Linked DNA regions of Homo sapiens: region 2 is linked to region 1. A link means that fine-mapping ties the variant in region 1 to the expression of a gene that starts in the linked region. Tissue or cell type: whole blood. Region 1 holds a variant in brackets; the other region holds the start of a gene. All regions are shown on one strand. Distances are between the middles of the regions.

Region 1 (6,131 bases):
TGGCGCGATCTCTGCTCGCTGCAAGCTCTGCCTCCCGGGTTCACACCATTCTCCTGCCTCAGCCTCCCGAGTAGCTGGGACTACAGGTGCCCGCCACCACGCCTGGCTAATTTTTTGTATTTTTAGTAGAGACGGGGTTTCACCGTGTTAGCCAGGATGTTCTCGATCTCCTGACCTCGTGATCCGCCCGCCTCCGCCTCCCAAAGTGCTGGGATTACAGGCGTGAGCCACCACCCCCGGCCTGTTTTAAAATATTGAGACCGAGCAGACCCCATGTGGTGTGGTTCTATTTACATAAAACACCAAGCAAAGGCAAGTTTATCACAGGAGGTCGAAGGCTGGTGTAGGGGTGGCAGAGAGGGCTCCTCCAGGGGCAGTGGAACATTCCAGAACTGCACTGTGCTGATGGTCACACAACTCTAGATTTGCTAAAAATCATTGACTTGTACACTGAAAATGGGTAGATTTTATAGTATGGAAATTGTACCTCAGTAAAACTGTTAATTAAAACAACATTAAAGGCAAAGAAGATACAGAACTGAAAAAAGCCAACAACACCCAAAGCTCCAGGGGCTGTGGGCGGAGCCTCCTGTGATGATGACTGTTGGGGGCTGTGCCCCTGCCGCTTGCCCCTGGGGAGCTGGAGGGGCTGTGGGCGGAGCCTCCTGTGACCATGACAGTCGTTTCTTGTCAGGACAGTCGCGGGGGTACCTCCCTGCCTGGACTTTCGGAGCCTGCTCCTGGCGGAGCCGTCACCTACCCTACCGCCCAGTTAGGGCTAGGGAGACCAGGCCTGTAGACGCGGTGGGTGGCACGAGGGAAGGGGGACCAGAAGCCCGCAACCCCTTGAAGCCCCCCAGTTCTGCCCGGGGCAGACTGCTCCCGAGCTAGGGCTCACACGTTCTGGGTTCTCTGTTAGTGCCTTTGCTGAGAGAATCCACACATGGTCCCGAGAGCCAAGGTGAAGCATTTTTTTTTTTGCTTAATCAGTTTTACTTAGTATAATTTGTATACAATAGAAGGTGCCCATTGTAAGTGTGCAGTTCCATGAGATTCCACCAGGGTGTATAGTGCTGTCTGTGGACACAGCAGACCAAGATAAGGAAACGGCCCAGCACCACCAGGCTTCCCTCGAGCTCCTTCCCCGCCCAGATGCCAGCAGCCACCAGTCTGTTCCCTCATAGCCCTGCCTGTTCCGACCACCCTCTCTGTGGAGCCACGGCCTGTGGTCTGCACTGGCCTGAGTCCCGGGCCTGTTGCCTGTGGGTAGGGTCCCGCCATCCAGTATTCACGCTGTAGCCAGGTCATGGGCATTTGAACTCTTCCCACTTCCTGGCAATTGTAAATAAGGCCACACAGGCCTGCGTGGGTAGGCGTTTCCTCTCCCCTGGGCACCTTCCCAGGAAGAAGGTTTTGGGTTTTAGTGGAGCTGGTCCAGGCGGCTGGTCCTGCCATGTGAAAATGGTCCAGGTGGGCTGGTCCTGCCTTGTGAAAAGGGCTACTTGAGTGCAGCCGCCGGCTTCTCTCTTCCCCGGCTCGACCTTCCACCAGCAGCCAGCTGGGTCCTGCCGGGGCGCTGGTCCTGTCTTGGCCCTGAGTCCTGCTCTCCGGGCAGGTTTATCCACCAGGTGAACCAGGCCACTGTCACCATCCAGCGCTGGTACCGGCACCAGGTGCAGCGGCGCGGAGCAGGAGCTGCCCGCCTGGAGCACTTGCTTCAGGCCAAGCGGGAGGTCAGTGTGGGCGTCTCAGTCACTCCATGCTCCCCCGGGGGGTCTGGCCCAGAATCCCAGGGGTTTGAGTTTCTGGGACAGGTGGAATCAAAGCCTAGGATTGCTCGTGGGCCCCGTCTCTGGGTGCAGCATCCTTCTTGACCCTGGGTCCCCGCGGACAGTCAGGGTGGTCCTCACTGGCGGTCCTCAGGGCCTGGGTGTCAGGAAACGCCTGCTGGGTCCATCCCAGGCTGGAGAGTCTCAGGAGGACGTTCTGTGGGGGCAGAGCTGTCTCCCCCACGCCAGAACTGTTGGCCACCTGCGACGTAGGGCTCATCCTCTGTAGAGCAGAGAAATGGCAGGTTCAAGGTCCTGGTGGGGTTTCACTTTCCCTGCTGGCCCTGAGATTCCACGAACTCTAGGGGACTCCAGGGCGTTGTGGGGAAACCTCTGGTCTGGGTCTGGATTCCGTCTTCCAGATGTAAACGCCACATGGCACCGGCTTCTTTGGCAGGAGCAGCGGCAGCGGTCAGGCGAGGGGACCCTCTTGGACCTGCACCAGCAGAAAGAGGCAGCCAGGAGGAAGGCCCGGGAGGAGAAGGCACGCCAAGCCAGGCGAGCAGCCATTCAGGTGCTGACCGCGCAGGGACCACTGAGCAGCACCGTGGCCCAGGCCTGACCGTGCGGGGCTGCTGCTGGGGCTCCCTGGGCCCCGGGACACTTAGCCTCAGGGCAGCTTGGCTGTGGAGCCTGGGGTCGTCCTCTCCCAGGGACAGTGCTCAGCGATGCTCCCACTGCAGGAGCTGCAACAGAAACGAGCCCTGAGAGCCCAGAAGGCGAGCACTGCCGAGCGTGGGCCACCTGAGAATCCCAGGGAGACCAGAGTGCCAGGAATGCGGCAGCCTGCTCAGGAGCTGTCCCCCACACCAGGCGGCACTGCCCACCAGGCCCTCAAGGCCAACAATACTGGTGAGAGTGGCTCCACGCCCGCCCTGCTCTGGGGGGTGGACTGCAGCCAGGAAGGAAGTGCAGCCCTTGTGGACCTCCTCTCGGCCTCCTGTGCTGCTGCCCATGTTGGCGGCCCCAGTCCTCGGAGTTAGGGGCCTTGGCCCCCAGCTGACCTGACGAGGGTGCCGAGACCTTGACAATCAAATGGTCCTGGACGTAGGGATCCCTACAGAGTAGAAGGCCCGGAAGGGAGGGGTGGCACTCATCCTCCACAGCTCCACACCCAGAAGGCCGTGGCTCCCCAGCGGCTCCTCTGCTTCTGGGGTCGCCTCCGCCTCCCCCATGCCTGGCTCCTTCCCGGGGGTGCCTCCAGAGTTGCTGCCCGCCCCGGGATGCTCCCTGTGGAATGGTGCTGTGTTCTGCTGTGCAGGTGGTGGCCTCCCTGCTGCAGGCCCCGGAGACCGCTGCCTGCCCACCTCCGACTCATCCC[C/T]AGAACCACAGCAGCCTCCAGAGGACAGGACGCAGGTCTGAGCACAGCTGTCCTTCACTCCATCATGGTTTTTGGCTTTAAGGGCCATGTCTGTGCCAGGGGTGTCCTGAGCTGAGCTTCTCCCAGCCCCTCCTCTGCTCTAGGGGCCACTTAAGCTCAGAGAGGCCACCCAGGAGGTGTCTTCTTGCTCTGATGCATGGTGCTGGCTGCCTCTTGGGGAGCCTTTGCTGGGGTGGATCCAGTTGGGTTTTTGCAGATGTCCTGGGGTGGGGGGCCTTGCATCCTCATCCACAAAAGAGGAGCTTCCGGCTCTGAGGGGTGACCTGACAGCCAAGGCTCCCAGGCTGCTCAATGGTGGGGCCAGGTGGCTGCACTCCTGTTTTCCTGGAGTGGGGCACTGGGAGGAGTCCCCTGGTGGCTGGAGCTGCTCTGGGTTTGAGCAGCTGCAGAGACCGGGTGGGAAGGTCTGAGCCCTGGCCTCACCTTCCTGGGGCTGAATGTCGGGACTGGGGAGCTCCCGCGGCGCCTTTGGGGCTCTGCGGTTGGCCTCCTATGTGGGGGCTGCTCTCAGCTACCAGCAGCCTTGCTGCATCTGTCTCCCTGCTCTTTTGCAGGACGTTCTTGCCCAGGATGCAGCTGGGGACAACCTGGAGATGATGGCCCCGAGCAGGGGGAGCGCCAAGTCCAGGGGGCCACTGGAGGAGCTGCTGCACACACTGCAGCTGCTGGAGAAGGAGCCGGACGTGCTGCCCCGCCCCAGGACCCATCACAGGGGCAGATACGCCTGGGCCAGCGAGGTGACCACGGTGTGCGCCCGCCCTGCACAGTCTGTCCACCCACGCCATTCACACAGAGCATGCGGTGGCTGTGGGGGTTGGGAAAATGGGGATGCCACAGGCTCCTCCTGGCTTTAGTCACAACCCTCCCTCCCAGAGCCCAGCCTCAGCTGCCACCTCTGCCTTTGGGGAACCCAAGTCCTCAGGCTGCCCTGACAGCCCCCGATGCTGGGCTCCTGTCCCACAGGAGGATGACGCCAGCTCTCTGACAGCTGACAACTTGGAGAAATTTGGAAAACTCAGTGCGTTCCCCGAACCTCCTGAGGATGGGACGCTGCTATCGGAGGCCAAGCTACAAAGCATCATGAGCTTCTTGGACGAGATGGAGAAGTCTGGGCAGGACCAGCTGGACTCCCAGCAGGAGGTGGCCCCTCACCAGCCCGCACCCGGCCCCCAGTGGGAGGAGGCCCCTCACGAGCCTGCACCTGGCCCTCGGGGGAGGAGGCCCCTCACCAGCCCGCACCTGGCCCCCAGGGGGAGGAGGTCTCTCGCCAGCCCCCACCCGGCCCCCAGCAGGAGGTGGTCCCTCACCATGTACCCACCTAGTTATGCAGCACCCCCCACGGGTCTCTCAGGGTGGAGGTGGCAGGGCCCGCATTCCCCATACTGCCCCCACCTACCCGCTGCCCCGAGCTGCCTCCACGAGCCCATATGTGTGGATAGTTCAGCCCTCTGGAGCCCTGCTGTCCTCTGGGTTGGTTTGTCCTGGGTGAACACTAGCGGCCAGGCTAAATGGAGCAGTGACGTGAACTTTATTGTCACAGGGCAGGAAGCTGGGCAGCATAGAACTTTTTAAATGGTTTGTTTTTTATTCCTGAGGCCACGGCCCCCATTTCCTGTACTGAGCAATGAAAACGACCTCTGCTGGGCCGCCTGCCACCTGCCCTCCGGCTTCCCACGGGCTCCCGTGTGCAGCAGCCCCTCTGTCCCCAGAGGGCAGGGCCGCAGGGGCATCGTGTCAGGTCCTTGGCTGCCCCCCGTCCTCTGCCGCTTCCGCCTGACGCTCGGCTGTGTCTGCAGGGGTGGGTGCCGGAGGCGGGGCCGGGGCCCCTGGAGCTGGGGTCCGAGGTGAGCACGTCTGTGATGCGGCTGAAGCTGGAGGTGGAGGAGAAGAAGCAGGCCATGCTGCTGCTGCAGAGAGCGCTGGTAACGCTGCTGGCACTGCTAATCCCGGGCCCTGCTAGCCTCCTACCTGCTGAGGCCAGGCCCACCGGTCCTAGCGCTTCCCTCCTCTGCCCACACCCTGCAGGCGCAGCAGCGAGACCTCACGGCCCGGCGGGTCAAGGAGACAGAGAAGGCGCTGAGCCGGCAGCTGCAGCGGCAGAGGGAGCACTACGAGGCCACCATCCAGCGGCACTTGGCCTTCATTGACCAGGTGAGCGGCCCGGGGAGCGCAGAGGCCCGGACCCAGCGCGTGGCTCATGGAGACTTCCAGAGCCAGGGGCTTCCCACTGCCAGGGAGCTTCTTCCTCTGTTGGGTGTCACACGGGTGTCCGCTGGACGCATTCCAAGCCTTTCCCATGCCATTCCCAGCCATGCATGCCCTGGAGAGGGCACTCCTGTCTTTATCCAGAGCCGCCCCGTGTGAGTGTAGTGGGGTGTCCTGCCGGCCCCTCAGCTCAGTCGCAGCCCCGGTTGGCTCCTGTTCTGAAGAGAAGAGACCTAGAGTTGGTCTGGGGTGTGTGAGAATAGGGGCCTCCAGGGCTGCTTGATAGTTGTCACAGGTGTGTCCTGACCTGGGGTCTGGCCTGGGGCCGGCAGTGAGGCTGGTGTGGTCCTGACACCCTTTGGCAGACAGTGAGCCTCCTCCAGGGCTGGGTGATGGCCTCGGCAGAGCTACCCTCATCCCAGGAAGACCCTGACATCACTGCAGGGGGTGGGCTGGGGCTTCTCTGACATTCGCCGGGTCCCCCAGCTGAGGACAGGACGGCGGATGCAGGCCTGGGCCCGTGTTTGCACACGTGCCCCCCCACTGGCCCCAGGGTCCATCCACAAACCTAGGAGGGGCAGCCCCAGGGGAGGGCTGCTGTTAGCCTCCCTCGGAGGCTGGGAGGGTCTCCTCCATCAGGGGTCCTGCTGGGCTGGGGCCTTGGTGTAGCACCTCACCTCCGGTCCCCAACACAGCTGATTGAGGACAAGAAGGTC
Region 2 (5,000 bases), 110 kb before region 1:
TGAGCCACCGCGCCCGGCCCTTTTCCTGCCTCCTAAACAAGTGGCCAGGAATTCTCCTCCTGCACCGGGTCCCCAGATTGTGTGGCAAGCCCTGCAGATGGCACAGGGGACTGGTTCTTCCTCGTGGAAAGCCAGGCCCGGACACCTCTCGGGCATCGCCTGTTGGGGTGACCCTCCCACACCCAGCCTGGAACCCTAGCCAGCTCAGCCTCCGTCCGCTGAGAAATCAAGGTGACCTTGTGGCTCAGCCCTCAGGGGGCACTCACCACACAAGAGTTCCCTTTCAAGACCCCCTGTTCGGGGCTGGGGCCCCCAGGAACGGTTGGGGCACCTTCCTGGGGCCCTGTTTTTCCCCAGGAGCGGGGCCTGGGAGCTGAGGGCGTCTCATCTCCCCACAGGCATCTGCTGCTGCTCCTGGCTGCCACTCACCCCTGTGAGATGCTGAGGGCAGGATACCTGTCTGTGCGGGGCGTGGGAAAAAGGGAGAAAGCCTGGCAGAGGGTTGGGGGCTAAGAAGCAAAGGGCGTGGAAGGGCCACCGTGCACTTTTGAAGTCTCTACTTGCCAGTGGCCACCCCACCTCTCCCTGCCCTCATCCAAGGACGGACAGGCCTGGCAGGTGGACCGGAGCTGTGGGGCAGAAGCATCCCAGGCCTGGCCTCAGAGGAGGGAGGCCATGGTGAAAGTGGAGGCTGTCTGCATCCACCTCCCCAGCCTTTGTCACCGGGACCTCAGCCTGACCCCAGGCCCACCCCAGGCTGCTCACCGAGGTGGGTACCCTGCCCACCGCCAGCTCAGATGCGGTGTGTGGACTCCCTTCTCTCTGGGGGTGAGCGGGAGTTCCCTCCCCTCCACATCAGGAGCTGGGGGAGAGCTGGAGGGCCCTGGGATCCCCTTGACCCTGGTCATCAGCCCCAGCCCTGACAGGCCCTGCGTGTGCCATGTGTGGCCTGGGTTTGGAGCTCAGCACCCTGCGGGAATTCTATTAAATCTCCGATTTTATCTGAAAACTTCACCCACATGTTGCATTGCTCTGTGAGGCGTCTGTGTGTGTCCAGGCAGCAGTAACAACGCTACTAATGCTGGCGGCCATCACAGGAAGCCAGTCCGAACGTCCCCCAAGGGCCTGTTTCACCCTCATGACACCAGGCGTGGCAGAGACGAGGAGCAGAGGCCTGGACCTCTCAGGGTCTCAGCAGGGGGAGGCCGGCCTGTCACGAGTGTTTGATGACCATGGAGAGGAGGTGGTGGAGGTAAGCGTGGCTGCTTCCAGGGGAAGGGCGGGCAGTGCTGGGGGAGGGGTTCTGTATTGATTAAGCACGTACTGTGTGCTAGGTCCTCTGTGGGCTTCATTTAATTTATTGCCACAGCCACGGGAGGGAGGGGTGGTTAGCGCTATATTTCAGATGAGGAAACGAGGCTCCGGTGAAGACACTTGTCTAGTCCTCTGGCTGTGGAAGGTGGGAAAGGGATGTCAACCTGGGCTCGGGAGAGATAAGGAAGCTGAGGCCTAGAGCCTTGTCAGGCCTGGAGCTGCTGTCCTCCCGCTGGGGCAGCACCGCCTGCCTTCATTTAGAGCAGCAGATCCTACAGCACCCGGGTCCTCACCTATCAAAGGCAGACACCATTCCTGACCACGTGATGGCCTGGACGAGACCAGTGTCTGGGTGTCTGGGTGTCTGGGTGTCTGGATGGGAACTGGGAGGGCCCGGCCAGGCCCGGCACATGGTGACTCTGCCTGCCCTTTGCAGCTGAGAGCTGGCCTCTCCTAGACCTCAATGTCCACTGACACCCAGTGCCCCTGCAACCTTCTCTTCCTGCCCCACGAAGGTGGCACTCTCCTGGGGGCCGCTCCAGCCCTCTGCCTGGGGAGCAAGCGGAGGGGCCTGGGACCCCACCTGTGTTCCTGTCTCTATCCCTCCTCAGCTGTCACCAGCTTTAATTACCCCGGCTCCATCCGCCCCGGCCCCTGCGCAGCTGGAGAGCCCCTTGGGCGGGCGCAGGGCCCCTCGCCTGGGCACGCAGCATTCCTGCATTCCTCCCCGGGGCCCACCGACCTGTCCTGCCGGTTGTGGGCAGCTTCCGGGTGCGGGGAGCCCGGCGTGTGTTTGGGGGGGTGCGCAGCTGCTGGATGGGGAGCCTGGAGAGAGCCCGGCTGTGCCCCGGGACTCCCAGCTGCGTTGCCCACATCCCTCTGCCACCCCGCATCACGACCGGAGCCTGGCAAGAAGTCAGTGATTCATCACTCGGGCCCTGGGGGCTGCCTGGAGGGGCTGGGGTGCTTCTAACAGCAGGAAAGGGAAGGCAAGAGAGAACCTTCCACAGTTGGGAGCAGCAAAGCGGCCCAGGAAGCCCCCCAACAGGATGGGACCATCTAAGGTTCCAGCCACCCCAACCCCCCGGAGCAGGGCCCCCAGCCTAGTGGTATGTGGATAAGCCCTGCCTGGGGTGCACCTTCTCGGGGAGACCCTCTGCTCTTTGGGCTACTGTCCTGGGGAGCCTCCCCCTTCCTGGGGCTGGGTGGACCAGCTGCGGAATGGCAGCTCCCCCTGGAGGGGCTGGGGAAGAAGTGGGGCGTGCTGTCCACCAGCTCCTCCCTACCCCGAGGCGCCCCAGATGATCTGCCTCCAGCTCCAAACAGGAGTAGTGGCCACCTGTGAGTTTCTCTGAGGCCCAAGTGGTCACTGCCGGAGCTGCCTGTGTCCCTGTGTCCGGACAGGCTCCTCTCCACCTCTGTGTTTGGGCAGCTCTCCCCTTGTGTCTGGAATTTTTAGAAAACGGAAAAAGTGTAGACAAAAGCAGGCTTTTTATCTCGCTGAATGCTCCAACACCCTCCCTAGTTACACCACGGTAGTGGAAGATTCAGAGGAAGTTTCCTCCTGGTGGCCGTGATTACCATCTGCAGTTCTTGTTCGGGGACATTGCAAAGGTCACATTGTCCGTCCAGCCCCGCCCCGCCCTGACGTTGCTCCCGGAGTGGGGACGGGCTCTGAACCACCCCAGCTCTCAGGGGCCCCGCCCTGGGTAACACACGTCTGCGGTGTTACCCACGACTGCCTGGGACCTGGCCAAGGGCTCCACACACCAAGACCAAGGTGAGGGGAGGTGGTGGGTGGGGACCAGCCCTGCCTCTCTTGGAGACCCCGAGGGTATGGCGCCAGGCCAGCCTGGAGTCGGGTGTGGGGCGGTTAGTGTGAGCATTACGTCTTCTTTTCCCTAAAGTGGCTGAAAATGTCCCCGGGGCCAGTCCCTCAGGGCACCCTGCTGGACTCAATGCAGCAGAAAGAGTTGGGGTGTTTGGCCGGGTGCGGTGGCTCACGTCTGTCATCCCAGCACTTTGGGAGGCTGAGGCGGGCGGATCACCTGAGGTCAGGAGTTGGAGACCAGCCTGGTCAACATGGCGAAACCCCATCTCTACTAAAAATACAAACATTAGCTGGGTGTGGTGGCAGATGCCGGTAATCCCAGCTACTCCGGAGGCTGAAGCAGGAGAATCACTTGAACCCAGGTGGCGGAGGTTGCAGTGAGCTGAGATCTCACCATTGCATTCCAGCCTGGGTAACAAAGTGCGACTCCGTCTCAAAAAAAAAAAAAAAAAAGAGAAAGGGTTGGAGTGTCCCATCCTCAGGGCAGGGGTCAGAGCTGCATCCCTGGGGTGCCCTGAGCTTGGGGGTCATGATAACCTTCACCCTGCATGCAGCCCAGGCCCACACCTAGAAGTCTTGTGGCCTTGAGCACACTGCGTTGCCTCTCTGAGCCTCGGTTTCTCCATCTATAAAATGGAGAGGGTAACAGTGAGAGATTGCTATTGGCTGGCTTCGTTCATTGGGCCCTAAATCAAACAGTGGCTTAAATACCAGAGGCTTGCTCAATGGGTGGTGGGCAGGCAGCCGGGCTGGGGCGGCGCCCCCCCCATCTCCACGGTGTCCCCACCTCTACAGTGCCTCCCCCTCTCCATGGTGCCCCCCCACCACGGCCTCCATCCCTGGGGTCCAGGTTTCATTTGTTCCTCAGCAAATGCTACAGAGCTTTTGTAGGCCCACCAGCAGGAGTGGGGTTGCCAGGCAGTGAGCTAGGGGGTGCTGGGAGGGCCCGAGGGGAGGCAGGGCGCATCCTGCAGGGTGCCTGTGAGGACCTGGGCTGAGGGTGGGTTTGAGCAGAGGCTGACATGGTCTCACCCTCTGGCTGCTGGGTGGGAACAGACCATGGGGAGGCCAGGACGGAAGTGAGGAGAACATGACGATCCCGGAGAGAGATAACCCGGATCGTGGTGGAGACACAGGAAGTGGGGAGAAGTGGTCCAAGCTGTGGATATCTGAACATGGACTCAACAGAATTTCCCGATAGATTGGATGAGGGGTGTGACTGAAAGGGAGAAGTCAAGGATGGTTCCATAGCAACCGCAGGAGCTCCAGCCATTGCATCTGCATTCCAGGCAGCAGGAAGGAGAAAGGAGGGAAGGTAAAAGACTACTGAAAAGCTTTCAGCTGGGGCTGGGCATGGAGGCTCACACCTGTAATCCCAACACTTTGGGAAGCCGAGGCTGGTGGATCACTTGAGCCCAGGAGTCTGAGACCAGCCTGGCCAACATGGCAAAACCCTGTCGCTACAAAAAATACAAGAATTAGCCATGTGCACCTGTGGTCCCAGGTATGATCTCACCACTGTACCTCAGCCTGGGTGACAGAGTGAGACCCTGATTCAGAGAAGGGGGAGGGGAAGAGGAAGGGGAAGGGGAAGGGGGACGGAAGGGGGAAGGGAAGGGGAAGGAGAAAGGGAAAGTGAAGGGGGAGGGGAAGGAGAAAGGGAAGGGGAAGGGGAAGGGGGAGGGGGAGGGGAAGAGGAGTGGAAGGGGAAGGGGGAGAAGGGGAAGGGGAAGGGGGAAGAGAAAGGGAAGGAGGAGGGGGAGGGGGAGGGTCTTTTGGCAAGCCATGAAGTCGGCCCAGCCCTTCTGCTTATATTGCTCAGGTTGTAGTCACAGGACCATGCCCGGTGCTCGTG

What was found. PIP is the estimated chance that this variant, and not a neighbour inherited with it, causes the effect.
Region 2: it holds the start of LINC00482, and the variant in region 1 is fine-mapped to the expression of LINC00482 in whole blood (TOPMed, PIP above 0.99).

Annotation. Positions count from the first base shown.
Region 1 is chr17:81,195,931-81,202,061 of GRCh38, reverse strand. CEP131 (centrosomal protein 131) reads left to right here. Exons shown (of 26, transcript NM_014984.4): 8 at 1,616-1,733; 9 at 2,227-2,343; 10 at 2,513-2,681; 11 at 3,091-3,185; 12 at 3,765-3,947; 13 at 4,174-4,350; 14 at 5,007-5,132; 15 at 5,236-5,361; 16 at 6,111-6,131. Among named protein-coding and RNA genes, the nearest start is that of CEP131, 24 kb to the left of the region's middle. The variant C/T (reference allele first, on the strand shown) is at 3,151.
Region 2 is chr17:81,307,279-81,312,278 of GRCh38, reverse strand. It overlaps LINC00482 (long intergenic non-protein coding RNA 482), which reads left to right and starts at 3,031. Exons shown (of 4, transcript NR_038080.1): 1 at 3,031-3,094; 2 at 4,435-4,649. It overlaps TMEM105 (TMEM105 long non-coding RNA), which reads left to right. Exons shown (of 3, transcript NR_165247.1): 3 at 1-1,014. RefSeq lists an enhancer at 2,608-2,667.